Homo sapiens: one gene and its partners. The protein of the gene in region 2 interacts with the protein of the main gene of each other region in a pairwise test. Each region holds a gene or a part of one and is shown on either strand. Other genes may lie near its edges.

What was found. Proteins that work in one complex are often made in the same cells at the same time.
Region 1: the proteins of ARNT2 (region 2) and SH3GL2 interact in a two-hybrid assay, tested with the Homo sapiens proteins (one large-scale study listed by BioGRID and IntAct).
Region 3: the proteins of ARNT2 (region 2) and ZNF341 interact in a two-hybrid assay, tested with the Homo sapiens proteins (one large-scale study listed by BioGRID and IntAct).
Region 4: the proteins of ARNT2 (region 2) and PSMB1 interact in binary tests that used the Homo sapiens proteins (3 or more experiments, as listed by UniProt).

The regions. Positions count from the first base shown.
Region 1 is NC_000009.12:17,759,645-17,764,444, forward strand, and holds part of SH3GL2 (endophilin-A1), read left to right. Parts: intron 1-1,792; coding exon 1,793-1,865; intron 1,866-4,800. UniProt on the Homo sapiens protein: Implicated in synaptic vesicle endocytosis. May recruit other proteins to membranes with high curvature. Required for BDNF-dependent dendrite outgrowth.
Region 2 is NC_000015.10:80,575,376-80,580,103, reverse strand, and holds part of ARNT2 (aryl hydrocarbon receptor nuclear translocator 2), read right to left. Parts: intron 3,239-4,728; coding exon 3,139-3,238; intron 75-3,138; exon of another isoform or gene 1-74. UniProt on the Homo sapiens protein: Transcription factor that plays a role in the development of the hypothalamo-pituitary axis, postnatal brain growth, and visual and renal function. Specifically recognizes the xenobiotic response element (XRE).
Region 3 is NC_000020.11:33,751,575-33,756,374, reverse strand, and holds part of ZNF341 (zinc finger protein 341), read right to left. Parts: intron 3,204-4,800; coding exon 2,952-3,203; intron 1-2,951. UniProt on the Homo sapiens protein: Transcriptional activator of STAT3 involved in the regulation of immune homeostasis. Also able to activate STAT1 transcription.
Region 4 is NC_000006.12:170,542,929-170,547,728, forward strand, and holds part of PSMB1 (proteasome subunit beta type-1), read right to left. Parts: intron 3,257-4,800; coding exon 3,175-3,256; intron 803-3,174; coding exon 673-802; intron 1-672. UniProt on the Homo sapiens protein: Non-catalytic component of the 20S core proteasome complex involved in the proteolytic degradation of most intracellular proteins. This complex plays numerous essential roles within the cell by associating with different regulatory particles.

The sequences.
Region 1 (4,800 bases), on a different chromosome or scaffold from region 2:
AAGACAGCTTATGGTGATGATTGTTATAATTATTAAGGACAGAGATGGGGGAACCTTAGAAATTGGTCAGCCCCTTAACAGCAGATGACATCAGGATATCAAACAGCCATTGGAAAATTTAATTCCTATGGCACTCTTTTTTAGAAACCTTGGCTTTTTGAATGATTTTCCTTCTCATCATAACTACAGGATATTTAGACACATTTGTCATCTAATTCCTTAATTCCCATCACATAGGCAGCAGGAGATCTACATTTGTACTTCTATCACACATGTACCATGGAGTTTCAGCATATTTGTTCCATACACACCTTTGATCCATTTCCCTGGCATAAGACATTCTATGACTTGAGTACATAGTGGTTGTTTGGAATTTTGCTAATACTAGGACCTTCACATATGGCTTCACAAGTTGTGTACTGCACAACTCCAGGGGGCTACTGAGCATTTTTAAGCTAATCACTACCTGGTACACACTCAATCTTAAAGATCTTTGAAATTTGAATCAATCAAAAGGATATTTATACAAGATTTATATGTAGACAGGCACATTTGAAATTGCATCCTTCTAAAGATAATTTTATATCATTATAACTTCACAAGAAAAAATTTGTTTTCCTCTGTTGATCCTAGTAATAGCAAACACACACAGTAATATGACTGCCATGGAATGAAAAATTATTAAGTATTGAAAAACTGAACTGAAAGATAAAATCTTTTAATGTGTGGATTATGGAAAAGGAGGAGGCTTACTTTATGCAAGGCTGATATTATATACCGGTATATATTATATACCGGTATATATTGGTATATACTGATATTATACTGGTATATACTGATATTATATACTGGTATATATTATATACCACTAGGTACAGCAGGTTATGGAAAAGTTTCTCATAGTTGAAGGGGGAGCCTTTTAACAAACAGAAAATTTCTCCAGTGGACTTAATTGATACCTAAATTTCTACATTAAAATTTAATCACTTTCATTTATACCTATGTCATATATTACATGTACATACCTTGAATAGGAGGATGCATTTATTCTCATTAGTCATTTACCATGTAGGGCGAATAGGAGGCCCACAGATGCTGATAAGAAAAGGATTTCTTGGAGAAAGACAGAGAGCACTGCAGTGAGCACCTTCCATGACCTCTTTCAAGTGGGGAGAGGGGCCTGACAAAGAGAACACGGTGAGATGCTGAAGGCAAACACTGACCATTCCAAATTTAGAAATTTAGAGGATAGAACAAATTTGGAGGATAGACTCTAGCATCAAGATTTTTGTTTAGCATTAACCAAAAGTTCAAGGACAGACTAGAAGTCTTTGCTCAAGATTTTATATTTTTAGGATGTTCTTAGAAGTTAAATAAAAAGCTCCCCACTTCTTGAATAAGCAGAGTTGATGCTGCATGATTCTTTCTTGAGGGCAGCAAAATCTGCCTCCATGCCTGACCCACTGTAGGCATCCAATAAATGCCTCTGGGACAAAATATGTTTCATTTTATTCACCTTATTTTCACCAGAAGGTAATGAATTATATTTTGAAACAAATTTTAGGAAACTACAAGCTTCTTCTTTGGATAAACGGGCTTTCCACATCTTGGCAGACCACTGCTGAGTACAGTGTCAGCATGACTTCCAGCCGCGTCTCAGCCTCCCTCACCTACTGCGGGACTTGTCCGGGGCTCTGTTGCATACCCCGCCATTGTATACAGACTCAACCAAAAACCGGTATTCTAAAGCTCATCATTTTTGTCATTTAGAGCACTTATTTTCTCATTTCAGAAAGTGGATGTCACCAGCAGGGCTGTGATGGAAATAATGACTAAAACAATTGAATACCTTCAACCCAATCCAGGTAAGGCATCATCTTATATGTTTAAAGGATCCCTCGAGGTAACTTTTAGTTTCTCTTTGATAGACATTTTAAGTTTGGTGTGTTTCTTCTTTTGGTGTTGCTTCCTCGGTCCACTTTTCTGAGAGGTTAGCGACTTCATGGATAGCACATTTTAACTGGGGAGAAGGGCTTTTTAAAGCTCACATTGAAGTAACTGGAAGATCTGTGGTATTTTATCTGACTGTGGTATATTTAACAAATAATGTATGCAAACAGTTCAGGTGACACATAATATCAGAGTAGCTATAAACTGTTATCAGTTTGAACTTTCAAGAGATGGTAAGAAGGAAAATTAGGATAGTTTAAGGTAAGATATAATGATTCCCAGAAGATGTGAAAAAGTAGGGAGGTGAATCGTTTTCATGAAACACAGAGGGTTTCTTCATAGGGCATCACCAAAGTCTTCAGAGCGTTGATCTTGATTCTGATTCTTCTCCAAGCACATCACAGATCAGCATTGGTTCCTGCTAACTTGTTATACTCTAAGAAAAAGAAGTGGTAATAGAGATAACGGAGCTATATGTTGATAAGAGGACCAGGCAGAGTTGGGGCAGTTTCGGTAGGCACTAGGTATAGCAAAGCAAAGCAAAGCAAAGCAGCCTACCTGATAGACCTCCTCATTACCATTCCTGTGTGTCAGTTTCTAACCACAGGGCACGGAAACGGGAAGTGAGGCTGGTTGTATTTAAGTGAGATGTGTGAATATTTGGAATACCCCTTAATCTTGAGGCTAGTTTCTTTGCAAGTTTCAGGTTGGGGTTCCGTGTATTTTATGGTCCTAGAGAGGATGGTGCAGACAACTGCTTCAGCCCCAATGAGTTTGGATACTGAGCAATAGTGGACAAGTGATCAAAAAAAAAAAAAAAAGGGGGCGGGTGTGGGCTGAGAGGAAGCAGGTGTGTGCTGTACTAAGTGCTGGCTCCTTTTCTATGCCCCCTGCTGCTGGCTGCAGCTTCCTTCCATCCTTATTCACCTATGACCAGCCCAGCTGCTATTCTGAGGATGAGCAGACTATGTAGGAATAACTTTCTGGATATTTGTTGCTGTTGTTTTTGTTCATAAAACACATTAGAAATGAGCTTATGTGAGGGAGGAAAATATGGAAGAAAATGTGATAAGCTATAGGAACCAGGAATTTAACTGACAGTGGTCTAGATACATTTTCAAATGCTTAGCAAATTTGTCAAAGCACTGCAAAAATCAGGTTTCTTATTTTTACCCAGAACCTTCTTGGTAACCACTGTTTTTCACAGAGATGCAAAGATCTCTTGGATGCACATTTATTCCTTACTGTTTAAACCACTGTCATAGGTCAAGTTCTGAAAGAGAACTGCTCGCCCTGCTTCCCCGCAAGAAATCATTATATAGGGGCAAGAAGTTTTGGTCTTTATCTTTGCCTAGAACCTTGAAGTACTCCATGATTTCCTGGGATTTTCACGAGTTGTACTTGTAACTCATGGTTGTAGGGCTAAGAGAAAGGCAGTGGGAGGAGGAATATAGTATTTATTGAGCACTGATGCATTTTCAGTGCAGTGCTAGGTATATGAGGCATTGTCTCATCTTTAAAAGTAACCATTTTTCTCCATATAAAGTAAAAACAGTTGAAGAATTTCTAGTATGAAAATAGACTAAAAATTCATTGTAACACAAATTATCAGTGGGAGCTCATCAGTTTTCCTGAGTATAATGGAACTGTGCTCTGTTGTAGGTAGGTGTGGTGGGTTGCATTGTGTGTCTCCCCAAATTCAGGTCCATCCAGAACTAAACTTATAAGGAATGTGACCTTATGTGGAAATAATCCTTGCAGATGTAAGTAGTGATGTAGGATCTTGAGATGAACTCTTCCTAGATTTAGGGTGGCCCCTAGAACCAGTGATGGGTGTCCTTATGAGAAGAGGAGAGGACACAGAGAAACACAGGAAAGAAGGCCACGTGAAGAATGAGAAGAGGTTGAAGTTACACGTCACGAGCAAAGGAATGCCAGGAGCCACCACCACAAGCTGGAAGACATGAGGAAGGATTCTCTCAGAGCCTCCAGAGGGAACCAACTTTGCCGACACCTTGATTTCAGACTTCCGGTATGCTGAACTGTGAGGGAATCAATTCTTTTCTTTGAGGCTGCCCAGTTTGTGGTCATTTGAAATGACAGCTCTAGAAAACTAATCCAGTACGCTAGCCTCATTTTATTCAGGAAAAAACAAGGGTCAGAGAATTTAAGGAACTTTCCCATTCATACACCTAGGAAGGGATGAAGACAAGATTGGAACTCAGGTCTGACTACCTCCTAAGTCTCTGCACTTCACGTTGCACGATCCTGCCTCTGAGAAGGGTAGGCTCCATTTCATTTAGGTGTGAAGGGTCCTTCCCTTTCAGAGAGTACCAGAGAAATTCAGAAAGGAAATTGTGGGATTAAGGCTTATTTTTATTTTAATAAAAAACATCAAAGGAGGAGGTAATTGAGAAGATCTGAATGTTTAGAAATGACATTTTTAATACAATATTGCATGTGCTAATTGGCTGCCAATATAATGGTTTTGTGACTATTTGAGAGTTGAATGGACATCTGCCACTAAGAACAATGAAGGCCATTACAGGCAATTCGAGGTTGGTTTCAGAAAAACAGTTATGTATGGGCAGGCCACATACATATATGAGTAAGTACTACCCAGAAGAGTCCAGAACAAAACGAAAATTTTGTGTAATCATTCCACAGAATTTAAACAACCTGCATTTAATTGTTTACAACAGGTACAATTTCATCCCTCCACCAGCTTCTTGCCCTGAGAGTAGACACTGGCCATAGAGCCCAGACCAGGTAACTGGTAAAGTTGAGAGTTAGGCAGACACCCAGAGAGACAGTCCTTGGGCACAGGAGAGCACAAAGAATGTTCCCAAA
Region 2 (4,728 bases):
GCTCTCAGCAGATGATTTGGTTCCCAGAAAGAGAGAAGCTTCTTAGAATAAAAATCAGTCCCACTGTTCACTCACTCTTTTGTGCTCTGGTTAATTTGTTCCTTTGGGGCACCTATGAGGCTTAAGGATTCAGGAAATAGGTTGCAGGCTGTCAGTTTTAAACGGAAAGAAAAGCTTCTCAATGAAAACCTGCTGGATGGGGCCTAGTCCTGCTACCCAGAGTTTACCCCTCCCACCTTCAGTTCACCTTCGACTTAACTCAGTTTGTCTTTATTAGGCCCCTGCTGTGTGCCGTGCTCTCTGCATGGCCTTTGCAGGCTAAATCTCTGACCCTGCTTAGCTCCTCGGCAGGCACTGTCTGTACCACCAGGCGCTTCTTCCAGGAGATTTTCCAGGCTATGTCGATTACATGAGAAGCTCATCAAAGACTAAAAGGCTGGGGGCAGACTTTTACTTTGTTTCAGGCCCCTCCTCCTGCCTCCCTGGGACTAGCTCAGCATGCAGGGCAGTGCGCTGGGTGCCCATGAATCAGTCAAGTAGGGCAGAATGGGGCTCATCACAGAAGGCTTTGGTAGATTTTCAGCTCCGTGTTAAAAAAAAGGCAAGCCAGAGATCAGCAGAGATTGGGTAAAATTTTACTATTGTATTCTAATAAGTTTCCTATGCTATCTGATCCCTTTTAAAATAGGGAGAAACCAAGAATGTCAGAGACATTCTTGAGCTGATCATTGTAAAACAAGTTCAGTGGCTTATATAAAGGGGACATCATTTCTGTCTTCATACAATCAATTCCTCATTTAACATAAGGGCTCCTTTCCCATTCTCCTTCCTGATGAAAGTATTGCTTCAGAGGACATTTTCTGGTCACTATTGTCTAGTAGGACCCTCTCCACAGCCCCCAGCCCTTGGTGTCCTCCCCAAAACACTGACTGATGAGGGCCGCTACAGCGTAGACGGTCCTAGGAAAGGCGCCTTGGCAGAAAGGGATGGGCTTCTTGGGGCAAAGCGCCAGCCCTTGTGCACAGCCCTCCCTGGGGGCCTCTGGGCTACAGCTGCCTGCCTTAGTGTGGACAGGCAGGGGCCAAAACTGGCGGGACCAGAGAGGGAGGACTGTGGGTGAGGATGCACTTCAGGTGCCAGCAACACCATTCTGCAAGCGGCCCAGGATTCCCTATGGCTGTATTGGGCCCCAGAGTCCTTCATCCCACAGCCTACCCCATCCCAAGCCAGCTCAGATCCTTCGGATATACAGGAAATTCTGCCCATTCCACAGGCTTTAGCCCTAACAGGCATCCTTTAATTAACTCAGTCATTTATTCATTCATTTTACAGACTAGTACTCAGCAAGTGCCTTTTCTATGCCAGGCTCTGCACAGGTGTTCGGACGTTCCTTGGATTCCTTCCCCACACTGCCAGCTGCCCCAAACCTGCTTTTCCTTCCCCATCACTCATCACTGCCCTGTGCACCCTACATTTTTGTTTCTATGACAACAGCGTTACCCAGGCTCTGCACCTCACGCTGGACTGTCTGCCCTGAGCCCTGTCTGCAGCTTCACTCTTCTCCCAAAGGTCATCAGTGATGGTGTCCTCCTCCTCAGCATGGTCCCCACGGCTGCTGCTGCAGACACAGCTCAGGGCAGACAGTCCAGTGTGAGGTGCAGAGCCTGTGTGAGGCCGTTGTCATAGAACAACGTGGTCATCCTCTGTTTCTCCCATTAGTGAGGCCTCCTCCAACAACACCTCCTCCAAGGCTTCACTCAGCACACCCCTCAGGCCCTTGCACCCCTGCCCTGGTCAGGAGGCAGAACCTGACTTTTGCTTTCAGGCCTAGCTGAAGAGTCAGCCAGACCTTCTCCGGTCATGCCACCTTGGGCTGTCCCCTTGCCTTTGAACTGTCCCCTCCTTACCTCCTGCTGCTGTGCTCTCCCTGATCCCCTTTGTCCAGAGTGGAGGACAAGCAGCAAGTGTCACAAGGACCCCATGAACATGAGCACCCAGGCAGGGCTGGCACAGGGCTTGGCATCAACGGAGATCGGTCAGTGCGTGCTGAGTAGCTGAGTAACTCAGCAGCCAAGAGAAGTCTGGAGGGCTTGACTATTGCTCAGCAGAGCAGCGTGACCTGCGGTGATGATGGTTAGGGACTGCTCACAGAGGGCTGCCATCTTGTCTGCTGTCCCCAGACCAGAGGCCCTGCCTGCAGCCAGGGCTCCCCAGAGCCTCAGAGCAGTGTGCAATTCAGCAAGACTCAGCTGCAGGCGTGGCCAGAGCCCCTGCAATGTCTGCTAATCTGTCTCCAGGAGGTCTGTCCTTGAACCAGTGTGGAAGCAAAATCCTCATTCCTTGTGGCTAGGGCAGTCCCGTGGCAGGGGCCTCTCTCTGGGTGGCCGGCCCCACCTGCCCTCCTGGCCTCTGCATCTGGAAGCTCTGCTTAGGGTCTGGCCAACCTCACTGGAGAAGCCCTGCCCTGCTGGGCATGAGGAACTTTAGGGTGTCTGGTGGGCACAGGTGAGTGCCCACATACCCTCCCCAAGAGCTGCCAGCCTCTTCTCTGACCGTTCTTCCCAGTTGATGCTTCTGTCTCCCCAGAAGTCAGTGGAGCCAGGCCTTGCCTCCAGTGATGATGTCAGGGCTTCCTCAGTGACCTACCAGATGCCCTTGATGCTAAGAACCAACCCTTGGGAAGGTTGGACACCCTGCCTGAAGCCTTGAGTGCCCTTTAGGATGAGGCTCAGACGTGGTGGGCTGAGCTGACCAGTCTTCCTTGGATTTGGCTGTAGCCTCTGGGCACCAGATGACAGGATACTTCCTGCTACCTTGTCAGCTGTTCCCAGCTCCAGCTCACTTGGGTCCTGGCTAGAGGGAACTCACTCCCTTCTCCCTGGCAATCACTGCCACAGAACACAGTGGCTGGTGCTGTTCACATCCAAGAAAGAGTAACTGACACCAGGAATCTATGGCAACTCATAGAGGGCTCACAGAGCAGAAGCAGAGCCACCAGAATCCTCAGTTTAGTCCAAGGCCTGAGCGCCAGTAACCACTAACTCATGCTTACAGCCCACAGAGCTGTGCTCTGAGACCCAGGGCTTTCTTGGTGAGGGAGCATCTTCCCACGCCATTGTCCCCCTCGCTGGCACATACCTGAAGGCCTTCCCGGAGTGTCCAGAGGGAAATGGGCTTCCTTGGGAGTAGATCTGCTGGGTTCCTGCTGCAGAGGCTGAGCTCATCATCTTCTTCTCCGCTAGGAAAACCAGAGCAGGAGTCACATGCGAAGGTTCCCTGCTCTGCAGACCACAGAGGAGGCTGCCCCAAGAAGAGGTGCAGGGGTGGGCGTGGGAACGGGAGGACACAAGTCAGGGCAGCCCGCCTGCACGCAATCTTCTCAGCCTTGCCTCTGCCTCCTCATCTCCCCTGGAGCCTCCCTGGCATATGAAGGCACTGGGCTGTTGTTCTTGACCCCTAGGCTAGGCCACAGGCTGCTTGACGGCAAGGCTTTTTTGGAGAGTGGGGAAGATTAAAAGAATTAATGAGGCTAGGCATGGTGGCTTGCACCTGTAATCCCAGCATTTTGGGAGGCTGAGGCAGGCGGATCACTTGAGGTCAGGAGTTCAAAACCAGCCTGGCCAACATGGTGAAACCTTGTCTCCACTAAAAATACAAAAATTAGCCAGGCATGGTGGCAGCCATCTGTAGTTCCAGCTACTCGGGAGGCTGAGGCAGGAGAATCGCTTGAGCCCAGGAGGCGGAGGCTGCAGTGAGCTGAGATCACGCCACTGCACTCCAGCCTGGGCGACAGAGCAAGACTCCACCTCAAAAAAAAAAAATTAATGAGAGTTCTTTCTCAGACATTATTTTATCCAATCTTTCCAACCCTGCGGTGTAGGGATTCCAAGTCCTCTAGTTCTGGGTGAGGAAGCACAGGGTAACAGCGAAGAGGATGGACTCTTATCTCAGCTCTCTGGGTCTGAATCCCATCTCCAAGGTAAGAGGTGCAACCTTGGACTGTTACTTAATCATCCCCTGCCTCAGTTTCCCAACAGAAAGAAGGCGAGAATAAAAGTATCTTCCTCAGAAGGCTGTAGTGGCAATTCAGTGAGTTAACCTAAGTGCTTACGACAGTGCCTGATTAAGGGAGCAAACAGAAACTAAAAGTTTGCTATCGTTTGTTACAGATGAGAAAAGTGAGTTGTAGCTTGTCCAAAGTCATGAGCCGGCGAGGGAGGGCTCAAGGCGTGAATGCAAGCCCAGTGCTCTTCCCACTCTGGAACTCAGCTACCCCTGGCCACCCTCACCCAGCAGGTGCCGCAGCAGGTGATGTCCAGGGAACAGCCCTGGATCTGTGTGCCTTGACGTTCCACTAGGGTTTCTTTGAGAGACTGAGCTCCTCTAACACTGAAAACACTCAGCCCCTGGCCAGCAGGTGCAATAATGCATGATTTTCTGCCACCGCAGAATGGTGAGCAGAGTCGTCTCACCCACAGGCTCACCCACAGCCACACGGCTGAAGAAATGGGCTCAAGACCCAGCTGGCTGTTTAGAATTTTACACGAGAGAGAAGGTGCTTTGTATGGTGGTTTGAGAAACAGGAGTGGGAACACGAGTGGTGGCAGGGTGCTAGACAGCAGGCTCCAATGTGACAGTTCTCCCTCCTTCGGTCATCGAGGGTGCCCAGGGCTCTCTGCAGTGCCCTCCCAGTGCCCCAGAATCTTCAAATTTCTACCCATCTCATTC
Region 3 (4,800 bases), on a different chromosome or scaffold from region 2:
AAAAAAGAGAGAGAGAGAACCAGGAAGTCAGAGGGGTCTGTGCTCCCCCAGCTGCTCCACTTCCTGACTGACACTACCCAATGCCAGAGTAGCAGGCTTCTCTTCACTGAGAACTGAAGCCACGAGAAATTACCAAATGAATTCTGAGGCATTCAGATTTTTCTTGCTCTATTGTCCAGGCTGGAATGCAATGATGTGATCTCGGCTCACTGCAGCCTTGACCTCCCAGGCTCAAGCAACCCTCCCGCCTCACCCCACCAAATAGCTGGGATAACAGGCACACACCACCATGCCCAGATAATTTTTGTGTAATTTGTAGAGACAAGATTTCACCATGTTGCCCAAGCTGGACTCAAACTCCTGAGCTTAAGTGATCCACCCACCTCGGGCTCCCAAAGTGCAGGGATTACAGGCGTGAGCCCCTGTGCCTGGCCTATTCATCATCCATTGGTCTTCCTGAGGTGTCCTATCCAAAATCTCTGGCCAGGCACGATGGCTCATGCCTGTAATTCCAGCACTTTGGCAGGCCGAGGAAGGAGGATCACTTGAGCACAAGAGTTTGAGACTAGCCTGGGCAACATAGGGAGATCTCATCTCCACAAAACATTAAAAAAATTAGATGGGCATGGTGGTGCATGCCTGTAGTCCCAGTTACTCAGGAGGCTGAGGTGGGAGAATCATCTGAGCCTGGGAGATCGAGACTGTGGTGAGCCGTGATCATGCCATTGCACTCCAGCCTGGGTGACAGAGCAAGACTCAGTCTCAAAAAAAAAAAAAAAAAAAGAATTCAACTCAGCAAAAAGCCCAAAGTTGAAAAAATATTTCAGACAAATATAAATAAATAGAAAGCTACAGTTGGAGTAATAAAATCAGACAAAGCTGAAAAAAAGGTACAAAAAAAATTATAAAATCTGGCCGGGTATGGTGGCTCATGCCTGTAATCCCAGCACTCTGGGAGGCTGAGGTGAGAGGATCACTTGAGGCCAGGAGATGGAGACCAACCTGGGCTAAAGTGAGACCCCTATCTCTAATTTAGAAAAGAAAAAACATCCCTCTGCAGAAATACCTTGCCTGGTTTCTATTTTCCTGACCAAACCCTGACCAATACAGCACTCAATAAATACTTGTTGGGACGGGTGTGGTGGCTCATGCCTGTAATCCCAGCACTTTGGGAGGCCAAGGCAGGCAGATCACCTGAGGCCAGGAGTTCGAGACCAGCCTGGCCATCATGGTGAAACCCGTTTCTACTAAAAATACAAAAAAAATTAGTTGGGCGTGGTAGCTCATACCTGTAATACCAGCTACTTGGGAGGCTGAGGCACGAGAATCGCTTGAACCTGAGAGGTGGAGGTTGCAGTGAGCCGAGATCACACCACTGCACTCCAACCTGGGCGATAGAGTGAGACTCTGTCTCAAATAAATAAATAAATACTTGTCACGTGAATAAATTCAGCCATCACTCAAGGCATTACTGAGTAATTAATGTGACTGCCACTGGCATAGGCTCTTATTATCCTCAACAGCTTTTCAGGAGAGTTCCCATTTTAGAGGAGCGCAGACTGAGGTCAGACAGTCCAATGTAAGATATCTACTCTAGGAGTGCTCTGCTAGGTGCTAAGGATGCAAAGTCTAGTAAGACTCAGACCCTGCCCTCAAATACCCTCATCTACATGGAAAATCAACAGCAGCAGCTCCTTCTGTGCTGGTCCTCTCTGGGCTGGTCCCCTCTGACTACCACAAGCCACCAGCATTATCTCAGCATCCCACTAACTTAACTTTTTCTCAATGCAATAAATTCCCTAGAGAAGCTTGTTCTATTCTCCCAGGGTAGGGCAAATCCCCTCGCAGCCCCTCAGAACATCACGTGAATGCCTCGTGGTGGGATCTTCCCACTGGTCTGGGCTCTCTTTACATAAAGAGACTACCTGACAGGGGATGTCTGTGGCTGGATTCTATGGTGAGTCTGAGTTAGTGTGATTTCTAGTGCAGGTGGGTTGTTTCTGTCATAACCATACCCTCTAGCACTGGTGTCTTGGAAGGTTCTATGAACTCAGTGCATTTCAAGTAGATGGCCTATAACTTAGAGCTCATTGGCAGGGAATTAGTATGGTACATTGATTGTATTATGGCACCAATTCTTTGCCCCTCCCTGTACCCAAGCCTTTGCAGTGTGACTCTGCAGTTCCTCCCATCAAGAGGTGGCATCTATTTCCCTACCTGCGCTATCTAAGCTGGACTTGTGATCTGCTTTGGCCAATAGAAGTGATTCTGTGTTACTTACAAGCCTAAACCTCAAAAGGCCTTGGGCATTTCTGTCTGCATTTTTGCACCTCCACCATGGCCATGAGAACCTAGTGGAGGATGAGAGTCACGCAGAACAGAGCTGAGTCACCCCACTTGTCCCAGCCCAGGCCATCCTAGAGCAGCTGACAGCCAGCCAACGTTCAGACATATGAGTGAGCCCAGCCAAGATCCGCAGTTGTCTAGCTGACCACTGTAAACACGTGAATAATAAACACTTTTGGTATATGCCACTGATGCCTGATGGATATTTCTTACCCAGCAATAGCTAACTGATACACCTAGCTTATTAAAAACTGTAAGAGACACTCAGGCAGATAATTTTTTTGAATCTTTTTTCTTTTTTTTGCCTGAAAAGGTAGGCATTCTCTGACTGTTCTGAGCATTACCTGCAGGCAGCTTATATTTCTGCTACAACCTGTACTCCATTCCACCTTCTCATGGCTTGCATCTTACATCTGTGGGTGTGATGCTTTGATTAAAGTCCTTCTCCCCTGTGATGTGGTACACCCCATGAAGGCCAGGACCGGGTCTGGTTTTCATGGTATCCCCAGCACAGTGTCTGGCACACAGCTGGTGCTCAGGATGGGTCCGGGTTGGCCATGATGTCCATGACCAGTGTCCTCTTCCACCCTGCCCCCTCTGCTCACCTCTAGGGGTGGGTAGGGCTGCATCCCCAGTGCCTGGATCTCCACCGTTCCACTCCCAGCCAGGGGCGCAGCAGCACTGTACACCTCCACCACACCGTTCCCACCAGGGTTGGGACGCCCAGGGGGGCCCAGGCTCTGGGGTGGAGGTGGTGGAGGCTGAGGTGGTGGCGGTGGGGGCAGTGGTGGAGGAGGTGGAGGAGGAGGTGGAGGCTGGGTGAGGTAGCTGGGCACGGAATGCATGTTCAGGCTGCTCTGAAATCAGAAAAGAAAAAGTGTTATAGCCTCTTGATACCAGTTGTCTTATTTATCAGGAAGGAAGGACATTTGCTTTAGCCAGCCAGGTGGAAAAACAGCTACTTACCAGACAGCTCAGGAGAGGGGCTAAGAGAGGTTGGGGAAACAAAGTCATGGGAGAATTCGAAGGAAGCCTCAGCTTGGTGCTGCTATCCCTTTTCCCTATGAAAGTAGGCAAAAATGGCCGGGCGCAGTGGCTCACGCCTGTAATCCCAACACTTTGGGAGCTGAGGCGGGCGGATCACGAGGTCAGGAGATCGAGACAACCTTGGCTAATGGTGAAACCCTGTCTCTACTAAAAATACAAAAAATTAGCCGGGCGTGGTGGCGGGCGCCTGTAGTCCCAGCTATCGGGAGGCTGAGGCAGGAGAATGGTGTGAACCTGGGAGACGGAGCTGGCAGTGAGTGGAGATTGCACCACCACACTTTAGCCTGGGTGACAGAGCAAGACTCCATCTCAAAAAAAAAAAAAAAAAAGAAAAGAAAATAGGCAAAAATGACCTCATTCATGCAGAAAAGAGTTAATATAGCAGCCTAATGTTGCTATCTTAAGAAGGGCTTCCCTTTCCATCTTGGACCCAGCAGAATGGCTCCCAGAAAGAAGGGTGGCGAGAAGAAAAAGGGTCATTCGGCCATCAATGAGGTGGTGACCTGAGAATACACCATCAACATTCACAAGTGCATCCATGGAGTGGCTTCAAGAAGCGTGCTCCTCAGGCACTCAAAGAGATTCGGAAACTTGCCATGAAGGAGATGGGAACTCCAGATGTGTGCATTGATACCAGCCTCAACAAAGCTGTCTGAGACAAAGGAATAAAGAATGTCCCATACTGCATCCGTGTGCGGTTGTCCAGAAAATGTTATGAGGATGAAGATCCACCAAATAAGCTCTATACTTTGGTTACCTATGTACCTGTTACCACTTTCAAAAATCTACAGACAGTCAATGTGGATGAGAACTAATCGCTGATCATCAAATACCTCAAATAAAGTTATAAAATTAAAAAAAAAGGGGGGGGGGCTTGCTTGCAGCACTAGCTCGTGACTGGGATCTGAGAATCTGGTTTGTGGGACATCTCCTTTGTTGATAAGGCTTATTTTGCCCACCTGGGGCACTGTTCTATTGTACCAGATTATGTAGACTGCTTGGACAAAATATGTGATTCATGGTGAACACTTCCTTCTCTTCTGGGAGTCTGGAATTTTGGTCATGGTGGCTGGTCACCTACATGACCAATCCCTAACAGAAACCCTGGCCTTGGGCTTGGTGCAGCGGCTAACACCTGTAATCTCAACACTTTGGGAGGCTGAGGCGGGTGGAGTCCAGGAGTTTGAGACCAGCCTGGGCAACATGGCAAAACCCCATCTCTACTAAAAATACAAAAACATTAGCCAGGCATAGTGGTGCACACCTGTAGTCCCAGCTACTTGGGAGGCTGAGGTGGGAGAATCACCTGAGCCCAGGGAGGTGGAGGTTGCAGTGAGCCGAAATTGCACCACTGCACTCCAGCCAGGGCAGCTGAAGTGAGACCCTGTCTCAGAAAAACAAACAAAC
Region 4 (4,800 bases), on a different chromosome or scaffold from region 2:
GATCTGTCCTGGGACACTGTACTTGTATTTGATTTTTAGATGCAACCAAAAGCCAATCCAAATGAGAACATTTGGATTGCAAATGAGAACAAATGGATTGGAACATTTGGATGGAAAACATTGGTGCCCATGTGGCGTAATGCAGCTCTGGAACAAAAATGGGATGGAATATTAAGTAACAAGACTTAATATTCTCAGGGAATCCTGGTCTGACTCTGACAAAATCAGAGAGGTGTTTCAAAAAGTTCTGAAAACACTGGAGTAGATGCTTATTATTAATTACCCCAAATGACTTCTAGAACCGTTAAAGAACTTTTTTGAAGTGTATTTGTTAATAAAAAAATTTTCAATACTCAGAATCACATTTAGGTCAAGCTTTCTAGGTCCGATTTCTTTCTATAAGATAAAAATGCCTAATTATTTACTACTAACTCATGCAAGTTCCTGAGAAAATAGCAAAATAACTGGCTGCTCAACATTCACTATTAGAGCTTCAATGTGCCTTTGGAGGTCATACATTAGCTTCAGTTTCTTCATCACTTTCATTATCAGAAATGAAATGAGAATTGTGTCAGATGGTATTTATGGTTCTTTTCAACTCTAGATGGATACACACATCTAGGGAATAATAACTCCTCCCCCCCACCATTTTCCAGAAAGAAGGAATTCTACCTTCTTCATCAAGTCCACCGATGATGTTGTAAACATAGTATGGAAAGAAGCGCCTTGAATACAGGATTGTAGACAGCATTGCAGCAATTGCCCCCGTAGTCATGGCCTTATTATTGGAATGCTTATACATCTGCAATTATTGATAAAAGTCACAGGCATGTAGAGGCAGAGGCCATTATAGACTAGAACAATCAACAGTATAAAGTGAATAAATAAATGCATACCACAGTGGAAGGGGAAAGCATGCCTATTTCCTTCATGATCAACCAACACAGTATTACTAACATAAAATTTTAAGGGAAGGAATGCCAAGTTTGCCCTCAGCTCTCTGGTTTAGACTCTATTTTCCATACCACCCTTATCTCAGGTACTGCTAATCCAAGAGCTAATGTGTATGAAAGGGCACATGAAGTGGCCTAAGGAAGATGGGTTTAAATCCATCTCTCTCCCTCACTCTGCATATAGACCAGGGGTCAACAAACTACCCCTGTAGTTTGGCTCAGGGGCCAAATCCAGCCTACTCCCTATTGCTATGAATATTGTCCGTGGCTGCTTTTTCACTACAGAAGCAGATCAAATGAGGCCCATAAAGCTGTAAATATTTACTATCTGGTCCTTTACAGAAAAATTACGGCAATCCCTGATCAAACCTAGATGTAAGTCCCTCTCTTTGTGGAGCAGATCTCTGTGAGAACAGAAGACACAGGGCAGCACCCTTACTCTGCATGATTTTAATACACAGCAGTGGTCGTGATCCTTAAAACATCTACAGTAGAGAACACAAGCATCCAAAACAGGGTCTTAGCATGACAATACAGTGACTGCAAATCCTAGCTTTACTATACCTTTGCGAGCCCTACATTACCCACTGGTAGAGAAACTTCACAAAAATTATAAACATAAAATGAATTCAAGATCACCAATTTTTGTTAACCACATAGCAAACATCTCTAATGAGAAACTTAATGGCCAGGCATAGTGGCTCACACCTGTAATCCCAACTGAGGCGGGAGAATGTTTGAGCCCAGGAGATGAAGGCTACAGTGAGCTACAATGGCGCCACTGTACTCCAGCCTGTGCAACAAAGTGAGACGCTGTCTCTAAATAAATAGACAGATAGATATCTAACTAGCACCGTAAAATTAAATAATGACAGTCAAAACACTGAAAAATGATTAGAAATGAACTACAAGTAACAGGTAAGTTTTTTATAGAGGAATGCCTTTCCAAGATAAAAACTATAAAAAATTATTCATAGGCCGGGCACAGTGGCTCACTGCTGGCCTGTAATCCCAGCACTTTGGGAGGCCGAGATGGGTGGATCACCTGAAGTCAGGGGTTCGAGACCAGCCTGGCCAACATGGTGAAACCCCGTCTCTACTAAAATACAAAAATTAGACAGGGGTGGTGACAGGTGCCTGTAATCTCAGCTACTCGGGAGGCTGTGGCAGGATAATCACTTGAACCCAGGAGGCAGAGGTTGCAGTGAGCCAAGATCATGCCATTGCACTCCAGCCTGGGCAACAAGAGTGAAACTCTGTCTCAAAAAAAAAAAAAAAAATTTCATTCCATTTCATTTCGAAACCAAGCACCAACATTTATTTACTTCACCACCTAATAAAGTATGAGAGAAAAACTTCAGGAAGGGGTGTGTATTATGTAGAATTCACCATTCCTTGTTTTATTAACAATATCATGTTTACTTTTGTCTTCTAACTCCCATTTATAAAATAAGCATTAGGAATTATCATATAAATATGCCAATAAATGTAAGTCACTATGGCTTTCAATGTAAGTTTCTAAAAAAGCATTAACAATTGATAAATACTGAGTGAAATCCTTTCTACACATTCAAAAAGCATGTGTCAGTTAAATAAATATACTATATACTCCAGTAACCACTCATAAGTGTAAATAATCTCAAGTGTTATTCATGAATAGGCAAAACAGAATGTGATCACCCCTGACTTCTGGCAGCTGGCTATCAACTGAAGCTGGTCAGGTGACAGACGTTAATGGTGCATGTTGTGCCTCCCATCCAAGCTCCCAGCTTATTCATTCTTTCGTATTTCTACTCATGCATCCTGCCAACTAAGAGCACAGCACTGTAAAGAGGAAAAGCTTGTCAACTGATGGTGATGCAAACCAAGCTCCTGTGTCAAATCTTTCCTGGGCTCTCTCCTGCCACAGAAATTGATTTGCTTTGTTTTTGAGGGAAGAGTATCTTCAGAAGAAGAACTCCTCCCAGGCTCCTTCTAAAAGGGTAGAGAACCCTTCATATGATACAAGACTTTAACAAATGGAATGTGCTGCTGTTTCACATTATGCTACTTTAATGACCCTGCATTAATGATATCATTTCATTTCTAGCATACATTTGTAATTCATCTACTAACCTAGTGACTCTCTAGCTATCTGACCAACAGTCATGCTGTAGGCTTAAAAGAATTTAATGAATTACTATTAATTTAAAATAGTGTAGAAATGTACAAAAGCATCTACCTTTAGTCTTGCTTCAATAATCTTTGTCAGCGTAAGACAGTCTCCATGAAAACCGCTGCATCCAATGACTGTTTTGTCTGTTCTGTAAAAAGCACATTTCAGAAAACTGAGCTGGTTAGATAGTAGAGCAAAACATATCTTCGGCAATTTTAAATTTAAAATTCTGATTCCCACTATTCCCTAAATGGTAATGGGACAAACAGTCACCCTTCTGGGGAGGAGGGGTCTGTATTCCATCTTACCCCTTATTCCAGATGAATTACAGGTGGATCAAAGACTTTAAAAATGCGACTATGAATGGACTAAATAAATCATGGGTGAATTTTTTTTACTATCTTGGGCTGAGGAAGATACGTAGGTAGGTTAATTGACTGATTTTTGAGACGGAGTTTCGCTCTTGTCACCCAGGCTGGAATGCAGTGGCGCAATCTTGGCTCACTGCAACTTCCGCCTCCTGGGTTCAAGCAATTCCCCTGCCTCAGCCTCCCAAGTATCTGGGATTACAGGCACCCGCCACCACACCCAGCTGATTTTTGTATTTTTAGTACAGATGGGGTTTCACCATGTTGGCCAGGCTGGTCTCAAACTCCTGACCTCAGGTAATCCACCTGCCTTGGCCTCCAAAGTGCTGGGATTACAGGTGTGAACCACTGCACCCAGCCTCGTGAAGGTAGATTTAAACAACACAATCCAAGGGCCACACAGAAAAATTTCATAAATTTGACTACATAAAATTCTACAGGGAAATTTAAGAATAGCTTTTTAAAACCCTAAGAAAATATATTAGTAGCATCTACCCCCAAAGTCTAATTTTAATTCTATAAAAATTCTTACAAATAAGGAAAGCAATAACATAAAGGAAAGATGGGTAACTTCTATGAACAGACAAGTCACAGAAAAAAGAGACATTAAGTCACCATAAACATAAGAGCCTCTATGTTACTCAGAAATCCAAATCTCAAAAAGAGACTATTTCAACCAATTATACTGGCTAAAAATGCCTAACTAACTAAATGCTGGTGAGGTTGTGGAAACAGTATAAACTGATTAACCTGTTAGATGGGCAATTTGGTGGTATTTATTAAAAATTTAAATACACACCACTCTCACCAATTCTATTGCTAGAAATCCATCTTGTTAATATACTTATCCAAGTATGCAAAGGGATGCTCTAGACTCACCAGTGAGTACTCATTTAAATAGCACCCCAAAACAAAACAAAACCTAAATGTCCATCTGTATGGAGAGGATTAAAATTTGGTATAGACATACAAATTCAACCGTGTATTTCAAAAATTAATTCCTAGATCTTGATATGAATCTATAAAGAAACCTAAACAATATTTTGCAGAGGCCACACAATTCCTCTTGGAAACTTACGAATGACTCGCACAAACCATACCTGTCCTACTAGGAGAGCAGCTGACACCTCTAGGGTCATCACTAACATCACCTGATCTATGCCTACCATCAACCTCACTGCACTAAGGTGAAGACGTCCAATCCCCTATAAGGCTTTACTGCCTTTACTGACAAGATTGGTTGACAATACCAACAGGGAAAGACAGAAATCTTAGAACTTCAAGATGCTTTTCCCAAATATCCAGGTGCATCAAAGGAATGGGA